3 separate regions of the Homo sapiens genome follow, and regions 2 and 3 are each reported to be linked to region 1. The links are microRNA targets in miRTarBase. Many come from high-throughput screens and were not tested one by one. Region 1 holds a microRNA gene; each other region holds the end of a gene's coding sequence.

Region 1 (3,350 bases):
GACCCAGCAGTGTGCCCTGGCCCTAACCCTGTGTGTGCCCCGTCCTTGGGGAGGTTTCTAGAGATGGTGCCACCTTTGGGGAAGAAGTGGAGCTTTTCCTATCAGAGCTACTCTGTGGTACTGGTGGAGAGGTCTTCCATGATGCATTCGATTTATTTTTTGACCAATCCTACATAGTGGACTCTTTTGAAAGCATTAAATCTAGCCTTAAAGCACCCTCGGGTGGTGCCGAGTTTAGGAACTAGAACTGGTGTCTGAATGCCTGAACGCACGGCGAAGCTGACAGTGTGCACACTCTTCTTGGTGGGTCGTGCACCTGCAGGCGTCCTGCTTGCTTACCATGGCAGTTTCCTCGAAAGAGGCGGCAGTTCCCTCATCGGCTCACTGCATGTTTGACAAGACACCGTCTTGCTGTCTTCCCTGCTGCCCTCTCTTCATGTATCACAGATGGTGCTCTGCAGACCTCTCTGCTGTGGCACTTCCCTCCCTGAATGGCTTCCTGCAAGAGGTGCTAATTGCAAGTAAGGGATGGAGTGCGGCCCGGACCGCAGAGCTTATTTCGTGGGTGGTGTGTTGCCACCTTCCTGACTCTCAGTATCCCGTCCGTCCTCAGGCCTGCTGCTGGGACGCGCTGGAAGCGAGCACCCAAGTCAGGTACTCGAATGGAGGTTGTCCATGGTGTGTTCATTTTATTTATGATGAGTATTACATGGCCAATCTCCTTTCGGTACTCAATTCTTCTTGGGAAACGTCACGAGGGGAAAGCCCAGCCGGCACCTGCGCAGGGTAAGGAAGTGGATCACCTCCGCATGACAGGTGCTCTCTGTGTGACTTACATCACTTGGCTCATATCCCGGCCATCATTAGGAGGAATTCCCCGAAATGATGCTGACGTTTTAGTTGACATGGTGGTCTTCTAGTCGCATCCTTGAAGACTCGTCAGTGAATAAACCACATTTAGTCAACCTTTTTAGGTGTGAAATCATCTTGGCTGTGTGGCACACTTTAGGGAAAGGAACTCCTGGCTGAATGGAAGACATCCACATTACGCCCTCAAATACCTTATCTTCTGGGTGACCTCTGGGAAGCAAGGGGTGAAGGGGGTTTCCTCAGCAGTGAGAATTAATGTTGTTTAAAGACACATTTCCATGGCACGACTCGGTTATTCCTACTGCAAGACGAGAATTGTTAATAGCATTTATTACTACCTTATGTTGCCAGCTGTGTGCCCTTGGAAAATCCCTTCACCTATCAGCTCTCTGGGCCTCAGTCTCTTCCTCTGTAAAGCAGGGTTAACAGCGGAGTGGAAACGTGCTCTTTGTGAAGTGTCTAGACAGCGTCTGGCACGTGGCTGTAGGATAAGCATTGTTTCTGAGGATGGTCATTATATGAATGTTATGTCATCTGCACTCATTGTCCTCTCGCCACTAGAATGGAAGCTCCCTGAGGGCAGAGTCCTTGTCTGTTTTGCCTGGTGCTGTGTCGCCAGATGTGCACAGTAGGTGTGATGCTGAATGAATGAATAGGCAGCGTGACCTGTTTTCTTGGTTGAACTCTCTTTGAGGCCTCCTGGAATGGAGTGCATGGAGTACAGTCACCTGAGCCTGTGCTGTCCCTGTGACGCAGCCCCACCCACCCTCTGAGGATGCTGCGCTGGACGAGGAGTCGCCAGCCTTCAGGTCGGGTCCTCCCTCAAACCCCTGTAGGCTGGACTGAACACGGTCACATGGTTCATTGGCAGCCCCCTTCTCTGTGTGAAATCCTGCTTCAGAGACTTCCAGAGGAGATACCGGCTCTGGAGGTGGACCTTGGTGTTCCAGCCCCTCTAGGGTAGGTGACCAGGGGCTGACTCTAGCTCGGGCTGACCTGTGATGTGTGTGTGCATAGCCTCGCCCCCACTGCCTGCTCCAGGGCTACAGAAGCTGGTCCATGACCAACCATGTTCTGACCACTGCCTGGGGGGCTTCTCGGAGGTAGAGAGAGAGAGAGAGCAAGAGGGGAGAGAGCGAGCCAGCAAGCCAGCGAGCCTGCAGCTGGAGTCAGCAGGGAGGTCCCGCAGGCAATGCCGCCTTTGGTGAAGAGGCATCTCGGTGTGTTCTTGCCCGTGCTGATGTTTGACCCTTGAGCAGAGGTTGCCCTTGGTGAATTCGCTTTATTTATGTTGAATCACACAAAGGCAACTTTTGTTTGAGTATCAAATCCTGCTTGGGATGGCTTCCGGGACCCAGTGGCAAGCTCAGGGGCATCTACACCCCTCCCGTGAGCAAGAATGGACGGGGTAGACGTGGGTGGTCTGCCCTCTGCGGTCCTCTGCGGTGGATGAGAACAGATGTCGCTCAGAGAACACAAGCTTCATTCATGATGGGGGCGGGGCTCGCGGCCCGGGGAGGATGGCGTTGGTGTCGCGTCGGCTTTAGCTCTTACCCTGGACCCTGTCTCTTTACATCACCATTTTGGCTGTGTTGATCCCAAAGACATTTTGACTCCACCATTTTTTTTTCGGAAGGTATTTGACCTCGCGGATACACAAAGAGCTCACACTTGGCAGGGTCTGTGACGAGTCTGCAGCCCCAGACCCCCGTCTAGCTCACAAGCACTGTGCTTCTTTCTGCACCTTTCCTTGTCTCTATCTTTCTCTTTCTATCCCCCAACCAAACATTGTTCCCAATTTTCTCCTGGGTTATGAAACAAATAGAGGCTATCAGTATCTCATCCCATTTGTATTAAATAATACTGATAAAAATAATCAACACAAAATAAAACTAAAAACAGCTGAAACGGCACAGTGCTAAATGTGTTCAGTTGACTACAAATTGGCAGAGGAATCCAATTTTCTTGACAACATTTCAGCTGTGACATTTGACCTGGGGAAATAGCAAGCTGCCGACGTGGCAGCCATGGAAGGAAATTCACGGTGGCGGCGGTGATAAACAGTGATATTTGATGTAGACAAGAACACATTGAGGAATCAAATCTTCATGCAGATTTTTAAATGGAAAAAATTGATCCTAATGAAAATGATTTGGGGAAAATAACAAGGGAAATAAGAGAAATGAAAACAGCTCAACAGCGCGGTCAGGAAAGCTAAACAGGGAATTGGATTAGTATAATGGCATTGGCTCTGAAAAACACGTTTCTATGAATATCAGTGTTGGTACAATTCTTGTGAAGGTGGTTACATTTGTGCGTGTTTACAGTGGAGTTGGTGGGGTCAGTAGGAACCTAGGGTCAAAAAATGGGATACAGTCTCCCCCTTTATGCAGTTGATCTTTTCTTGCTGCCCCAAACCTTCCCGAGAGCTTCCCGGAAAGGTGTGCTGACTTCAGGCGTGACACACTGGTAAGGCGTCC
Region 2 (3,000 bases), not on the chromosome of region 1:
CTGGCTGGCAGCCCAGCTGCACCAGGGCCGTGTGGACGTGGACGCCACCCAGGACCTGATCTGCCGCTTCAGCTCCCAGGAGGAGGTGTCCCTGAGCCACGTGCGTCCCGAGGACTGTGAGAAGGGGGGACTGAAGAACATCAACCTCATCATCATCCTCACCTTCATACTGGTCTCTGCCATCCTCCTCACCACGCTGGCCGCCTGCTGCTGCGTCCGCCGGCAGAAGTTTAACCAACAGTATAAAGCCTAAAGAAGCCGGGAGACACTCTAGGTCAGTGGGGGAGCCTGAGGTACAGAGAAGAGTGAGGACTGACTCAAGGTCACACAGTGATCCGGGATCCCAGAACTCTGGTCTCCAAATTACAGCCCAGGACACCTTTCTCTGCCGCCTGCTGCATCAGTGGGTGACCCCCTTCCCGGGCTGCACTTTGGGTCCAGCTGTGGAAGCCAGAAGTTGGGCGGTTTCAGGGACAGCCGAGAATAATGTTGACCTGTCAGATCAACAAATCTTCACTGAGCATGTATTTTGTGCCACACCCTGCTCTGGGCACTGGGAATGCTGGGAAATGAGATACATTCCCGCCCTCAAGAATCTCCCAGTCTGGTAGGAGAGAGTGCTGCAGAGCCACGTGGCCGCCACGCAGTGTGCTTAGGGCCTGAGGTGTGAAAGCCCAGGGCTCCAGAGCTCGGCAGGCCCCGCTGGTTTGGTGCGGTGAGTCCTGCCCCGGCTGTGCCAGGGTGAGGGAGGGCCAAGCCCAGGAGGATTTGTCTGAGACATTTCCAAGCAGACTGTTTGTCACGTCTTCTGAGAATGACTTTCAGTCTCTCTGAAAATGAAAAGCTTAGGACCAGAAGAGAGAATTGGAGCTGTACGAGTGTGTCTCGGATCTGGTGTTGTTAGGTGGGCCACGGCGGCTCCAGCAGGGTCTGGTTAAGGGGTCCAGCCCAGCACTGGACCATTCCGTCTCCTGCTCTGGACTTGCCCTCTCCCTTCCTGGCACTCTCATGTTGCATACCCTGACCCCAGTGCTGCTCTAAGCACCGTCCCTGCCCAGCCCCACTTCTCCATCGCAGCCCCACCTTGGCTGCTGAGCCAGGAGCTAAAACCTTAGATATCTGGTTCTGTTTTGCACCCAGCTTGGCAGATGTGGATTTGAATCCAAGCCTTGTGTCTGCCCCTATGTGACAGCTCTATATTTTATCCCCGTTTTATAAAAGAGGAAACTGAAGTTCTGAAAATCTCCTTCCAGGGCCCCAGCTAACTAATGCCATAGGTGAGATTCAAACCTTCATCCTTCTGTCTCCAGGGCCTGATCTTTACCACTGCAGGGGCTGCAGGCCGTTAAGTGGACAGGAAGTGGCCCCACATAGCCCGAGCAGGGTCTGGAAGCATCCTGTGCTGTGCACACCTGCTCTCTCCTCTCTCCCAGGCAGGCAGCTGCAGGCGCTCTCCTCCTTCTCTGCCTGTTTCCCTCCTCCCTTCCTTTCCACCCTGGTGTGGGTTCTCCTGTTCTCTCTGTGCTCTTGCATTCTCTCATTCCCTTTTCCTCTATTGAGCAGAGCCTGGAGTTTGAGACTATGGAATCCAACCTCCCCATTGCACAGATGGGGAAACTGAGGCTTAGGAAGAGAATGAAACTTGTGGAGAGCTTATACAGAGCCTCTGGGGGAAAAAAGAGCCCTTATTTGTGGGGTGAGATTGGGGGTTGGACCAGAGTGATGTCCTCTCTCAGCTATCACATCACAAGATAATGCTGGCTCCAAACTTCCTTTCTGTGCCTCATCATGCAAGGATCTTTTTTCCCTCTTACAAAAACAGGTAAAAAGCCTCACCCAGATGACCCCCATCCCTCATACCATGGAGTCATGAGCTGTCTGGGAAGAATGGACGTGCTGGGACCAACTCAAGACCTTGTTTTGCTGTCTTCATCATCTTACCTGTGCTTGGCCCACAGTCTGGCTCATGATGTGGGCTCAGTAATGTGCGAGAAAGTGAAAATGCCACTCTCTCCACCCCATTTTACAGAGGAGAACACCAAGGCCCAGAGGAAGTTAAGGGAGAGTCAATGGGCAGAGCCAGGGCTAGGCCCTGGTGGTGTGTGGAGCACCCAGGCAGACCCAGTCCTGGTTGGGATCACACCCACGGGTGCTACTGCACGTAACACTCCTCCTTAGGCCTGGAGGCCAAGGTGTGGGTCCCCACGCCTGATCTTTGAAAACACTACACAGGGCTGCTGTCACTTCCCAGGGCCCAGGCCTCAGCCCAGGCCTCGGGACCAACTCTTTGTATAACCTACCTGAATGTATTAAAAACTAATTTTGGAGAAGCAGTGTGGCTGCCAGCTTCCTCTTTGCAATCCGCTTCATTGCGTCCACTAGAACCCTGCCGCTCAATCCCATTACGGTCGTTCAATCATCATGGCAAATCCCTGGGGACACTGAGACTCTGGGCCAGCACCACCCTGGACCTTGAAGCCGCAGCCACTAGCATGGCCCCTGCTACACCTCTTGCCCCACACTCAACAGGCGACTGTGCTCCCCACCCCAGGGCTGAGAGGCTGAGGGCTTCCGTTTGTTTCCTTCCTGCTACAGCTACAGGCCCCCTCCCCTTCTCTGTGCTCAGCCCTCTGTGCCCTATCTCAGAGGCTGCACTGCCCCTCCTCCTTGGGGTCCCCAGCCCCGTCCTCTCTCCCTTACCCCGTCATGCTCTCTTCTGCCTCCAGCCTCTCCCTGTTTACGTCTTCCTCTCAGACTTCAGCTGGACTCAAGTCTTGTCCGTCTTAAAAATAGTGAGAAGCCCCTCAGCCACTTTCCCCTTCGTCCTCCCACTCTTCACAGGCCAGGTTCTTGGTAAAGTCACTTCCCTTCCCGCCCCTCCCGTTCTCAACCCGCCTGGAGCTGCCTTCAGCCCCTCCCAGCTCCATGCTGCCCTTGCTAACAGCGTCAAGGGTATCCTTTGCCAAACTCAGCACGCTTTTCAGACCTCCTCTCCCTAGG
Region 3 (3,350 bases), not on the chromosome of region 1:
TGAAAAGGCTCCCCTAAGGAGAATTTTAAGACTAAGTAAGGTTTTTAGTGAGCTTAAATTATACAATTCTGAGGCATTATTTAAGGTGCATACTGTATTTTTTGCTTGAAACCTGTCAGCATTTTATTTGTATGGCAATTAAATGACTCAGCCATTCATGTCTCATGCCAGTCTTTTTCAATTGTTATTTTTAACAAAGAAAATTATATATATATGTATATATATATTATATATATGTATATATGTATTATATATGTATATATATATAAACTTACAGCAAAAATGTTTAAAAATAGCAAATAGTTTGAGTATAGTTAAACCTAATAACTGTACTTTTGTTTCTATGCCTCTGAGACAAGATTACTAGACCCTTATTCAAAGTTTCTAAATATAGGAAATAGAACATTGGGCCATGCTAAAAAAATTGTTCAGATTTTCTTTTGAAAGAGAATAGTTATTTTTCCTCCTGACCTCTAATGAAGATGCTTTATTTGTCAAGGTGTTTTCCTTAGAAAATTGACCCAGTGTCAACTGTAAAGAAAACATAGAGGATCCTTGGATGATTGACCAACTTATCCAAACACAGGTTTAGTAAAGAGAGGATATAAAGATAAAATGTGAAATGACCTCTCTGAGTCACATTTGTTTTCATAATTTCCTAGCAAACATCCAACTTCACTGCTACCCTCAGCAATGTTTCTTGAAACATTTTTAAGACATTGATAGACACCAATAGCTGATCTTTAGAAAGCCATTCCCAGAAGAATATGTAAGGGGTTACAACTCATTTCAGGGAGTCTGCCTAGCTCTTGATATTACATGTCTTTGGCATACAATTGTGTACCTTTTATCATTGACAGTGAAGAAAATAATGCCATTTGTAACTTCTGAGATATACACACAATACTATCAACTAGCCGGTTAATAAAAGATAAGAAAAATAAAGAAAATAGAACATTTTTAGGTGTCTGGCAAGTATCCTCTAAATCAAGGTAAAGATAATAATTTAGTGGCAGTGTTCATATTTTCCTATGACTGTAAGATTTAGGTGCCTCACAAAATATTAATATTTAGCCTCTTATGAAAGGTTCGTTTTTCTTCTAACACTTTAGTAGCTGAATACAAAGAAAATACACAACAGCTGTTTATAAATGAAATAAAAAGTTTCCATTTTTTATCTGAGTTTCTCATTTATTTGCAGAGAACGAATAAAATAAAAATATCCTAGTGTTGTTTGCACCACAGCATACCAGTAAATCTTAAGGATTGTGTTTCAGTATGAAAAGGAAGAGCAGGAAGATTTCCTCATTCTGTCTTACCAGCAAAAGTCTAGCCTTCACACACACACACACACACACACACACACACACACACACACACACACACACACAGAGTCATCTATATGAACACGTACTTGAGTTTCTTAAACATATATGAAGCACCTTCCATTTCCCTTTATAATAAATCCCTTAGTTTTTGCTGTTCATTAAAAAACAAAAAGGAAGAGACAAGCTCAGGACATTCTGAAAACCAATGTCTTTAGGACACACTAAGGTGTCCTGAATTACTTTAACGGACACATTGTAAAGACACACTCTCCAATCCCTATTAGGAAAAGTTTAGTCAAGTTTGCTTACTATTTGGGTGCTTATACCAAAAAAGCATCATTTAGGACATTATTTAGGATAATATTATTTATGCAGGAATTGTACCACCTATTTCCAGATGGTATAACTTATTATCTGACAGGCATGTAGCAAATAGAACACAAAGCATAAATCTGTCAGGAGAAATCATACGAGAAAAAGAGCATTGTCTGGTTATCAGAATATCAGATCTCTCATTCTGGCCTTGCTAGGAAATAGATCTTTGATTCTAGAAAAGTCAACTAATTTCTATGGTTCTTACTTTTCTCCTTTATAATATACCCATTTAAATTCCAAAAAGGTATATGATAAATCACAATAATTTCAATCACATGGATTTTAATACAAAATGTATAAAATCAATTTCCAAAAATTTTCTGCATATACTGAAAATGTCTGTACGAATGAGCTAACTACTATAGGCCTTCCCTAATTTATTCTATTAAATGTGGGTACTCAATGTAACCTGAAAATATTGAGCTTAACTCTTCTTTTTTTTTTTCAAAAGGGAAACTTGAAAAAGACTGCTTCCCCCAGAAAATTTATCAACAATAGGTGCTCAATTAAATGTTTTTAAACAATGAACAATATCCCCTTTCATATAAATAATCAGGGGAGAGATATTTTTAAGTCTTTTTTTTCTTTTTCCATAGTGTCACCTACACAAAAAATTATGTAAAGACACCACTTCTATGAGGAGGTATTCATTGTAGATGTACAGAAGTCAACGGAAACTTAAGTTTACAGAAAAAATAAACCAGATTATCATTCCACCCAACTGTATATTCCCACAGATGCTTAATAAAAGCTATCTGATGATATAATGAATTATCAGTTCTTGAGGAAGTATATACAGTTGGTGACTATTTTTCAAAAATCATCATCCAACAAATTTTTTTCATTTAAAATCTTTCATATTACCCTTTCGACAATCAGTTGAAATTTTAAAACTAAGAACATTTAAAAATATAAATGAAAGTAGCATTAGCTATAGACTGATATTCAACTTCAGACGTTAAAATAAATACAAGTGTGTATTAAGAGTAAAATTATGTCAACAATGTATAAATGAAAACTGCCAATGTAATTAATGTTTCTTTTAACATATCCCATCCATTGCTTTCCCTCCAAAAGACAAAGGTAGCAAAAGACGAAGCAGGAAGAACTGCTTCAGAAACTGAACATACTGATTTAATTGGCTAAGAAGTCCAAATGCTAATACTCCTAATAATTAGCCATTCCTTTTGTGTTTTGGTGACATATATCCTCATACAATGTATATCAAATGGAATTTTTTGATTTACACCTGACATTTCAAAGTTTCCATTTTTGAATTCTCCTAGTCTTAAGTAAGTAGAACATTGTCTCCTTTGTTTGCTAGGCATAACGTTTTCCCCAACATCTAGGGCTCCATGATGCAAAATATCATTTTGCCGATCTTCTGTTCCAGTATTTACTTTAATTTTTTTTATTATAATTGGATTTTCAAATACAATCACAAAAACATCTCCTGTTGAAGGTGGTTTCCCCCAAAAGTACTCATCAACACTACTGTAAGCCTTGCTTGCTTCATAATTTTCAAACACATTCATGTTGGTGTACAGACTTGCAGGGGGGTTATCAGGAATGTCAAATGACTCCTCTTCAAAATCATCATCCTTCAGCTTATTCTCCGTCCCTTTGTATGATGAATAATAGCCCATG

What was found. The annotated mature microRNA hsa-miR-377-3p reads AUCACACAAAGGCAACUUUUGU and lies in region 1 at 2,166-2,187, shown strand. An mRNA with a match to its seed (bases 2 to 7 or 8) in the 3' UTR can be bound and repressed. Matches are read on the target gene's strand: a 7mer-m8 pairs with bases 2 to 8, a 7mer-A1 pairs with bases 2 to 7 and ends in A, and an 8mer does both.
Region 2: the mRNA of LRRC32 is a reported target of hsa-miR-377-3p. Seed matches in the 3' UTR shown: 7mer-A1 at 665-671.
Region 3: the mRNA of MGAT4C is a reported target of hsa-miR-377-3p. Seed matches in the 3' UTR shown: 8mer at 1,336-1,343.

The regions. Positions count from the first base shown.
Region 1 is chr14:101,059,929-101,063,278 of GRCh38, forward strand. It overlaps MIR377 (microRNA 377), which reads left to right and starts at 2,122; the gene lies at 2,122-2,190. MIR496 (microRNA 496) reads left to right here and starts at 645; the gene lies at 645-746.
Region 2 is chr11:76,656,857-76,659,856 of GRCh38, reverse strand. It overlaps LRRC32 (leucine rich repeat containing 32), which reads left to right. Exons shown (of 3, transcript NM_001128922.2): 3 at 1-2,333. The coding sequence ends at 253. LRRC32-AS1 (LRRC32 antisense RNA 1) reads right to left here and starts at 2,861. Exons shown (of 3, transcript NR_199061.1): 1 at 2,701-2,861; 2 at 163-249.
Region 3 is chr12:85,976,444-85,979,793 of GRCh38, forward strand. MGAT4C (MGAT4 family member C) reads right to left here. Exons shown (of 5, transcript NM_001351288.2): 5 at 1-3,350. The coding sequence ends at 2,846. Among named protein-coding and RNA genes, the nearest start is that of NTS, 100 kb to the left of the region's middle.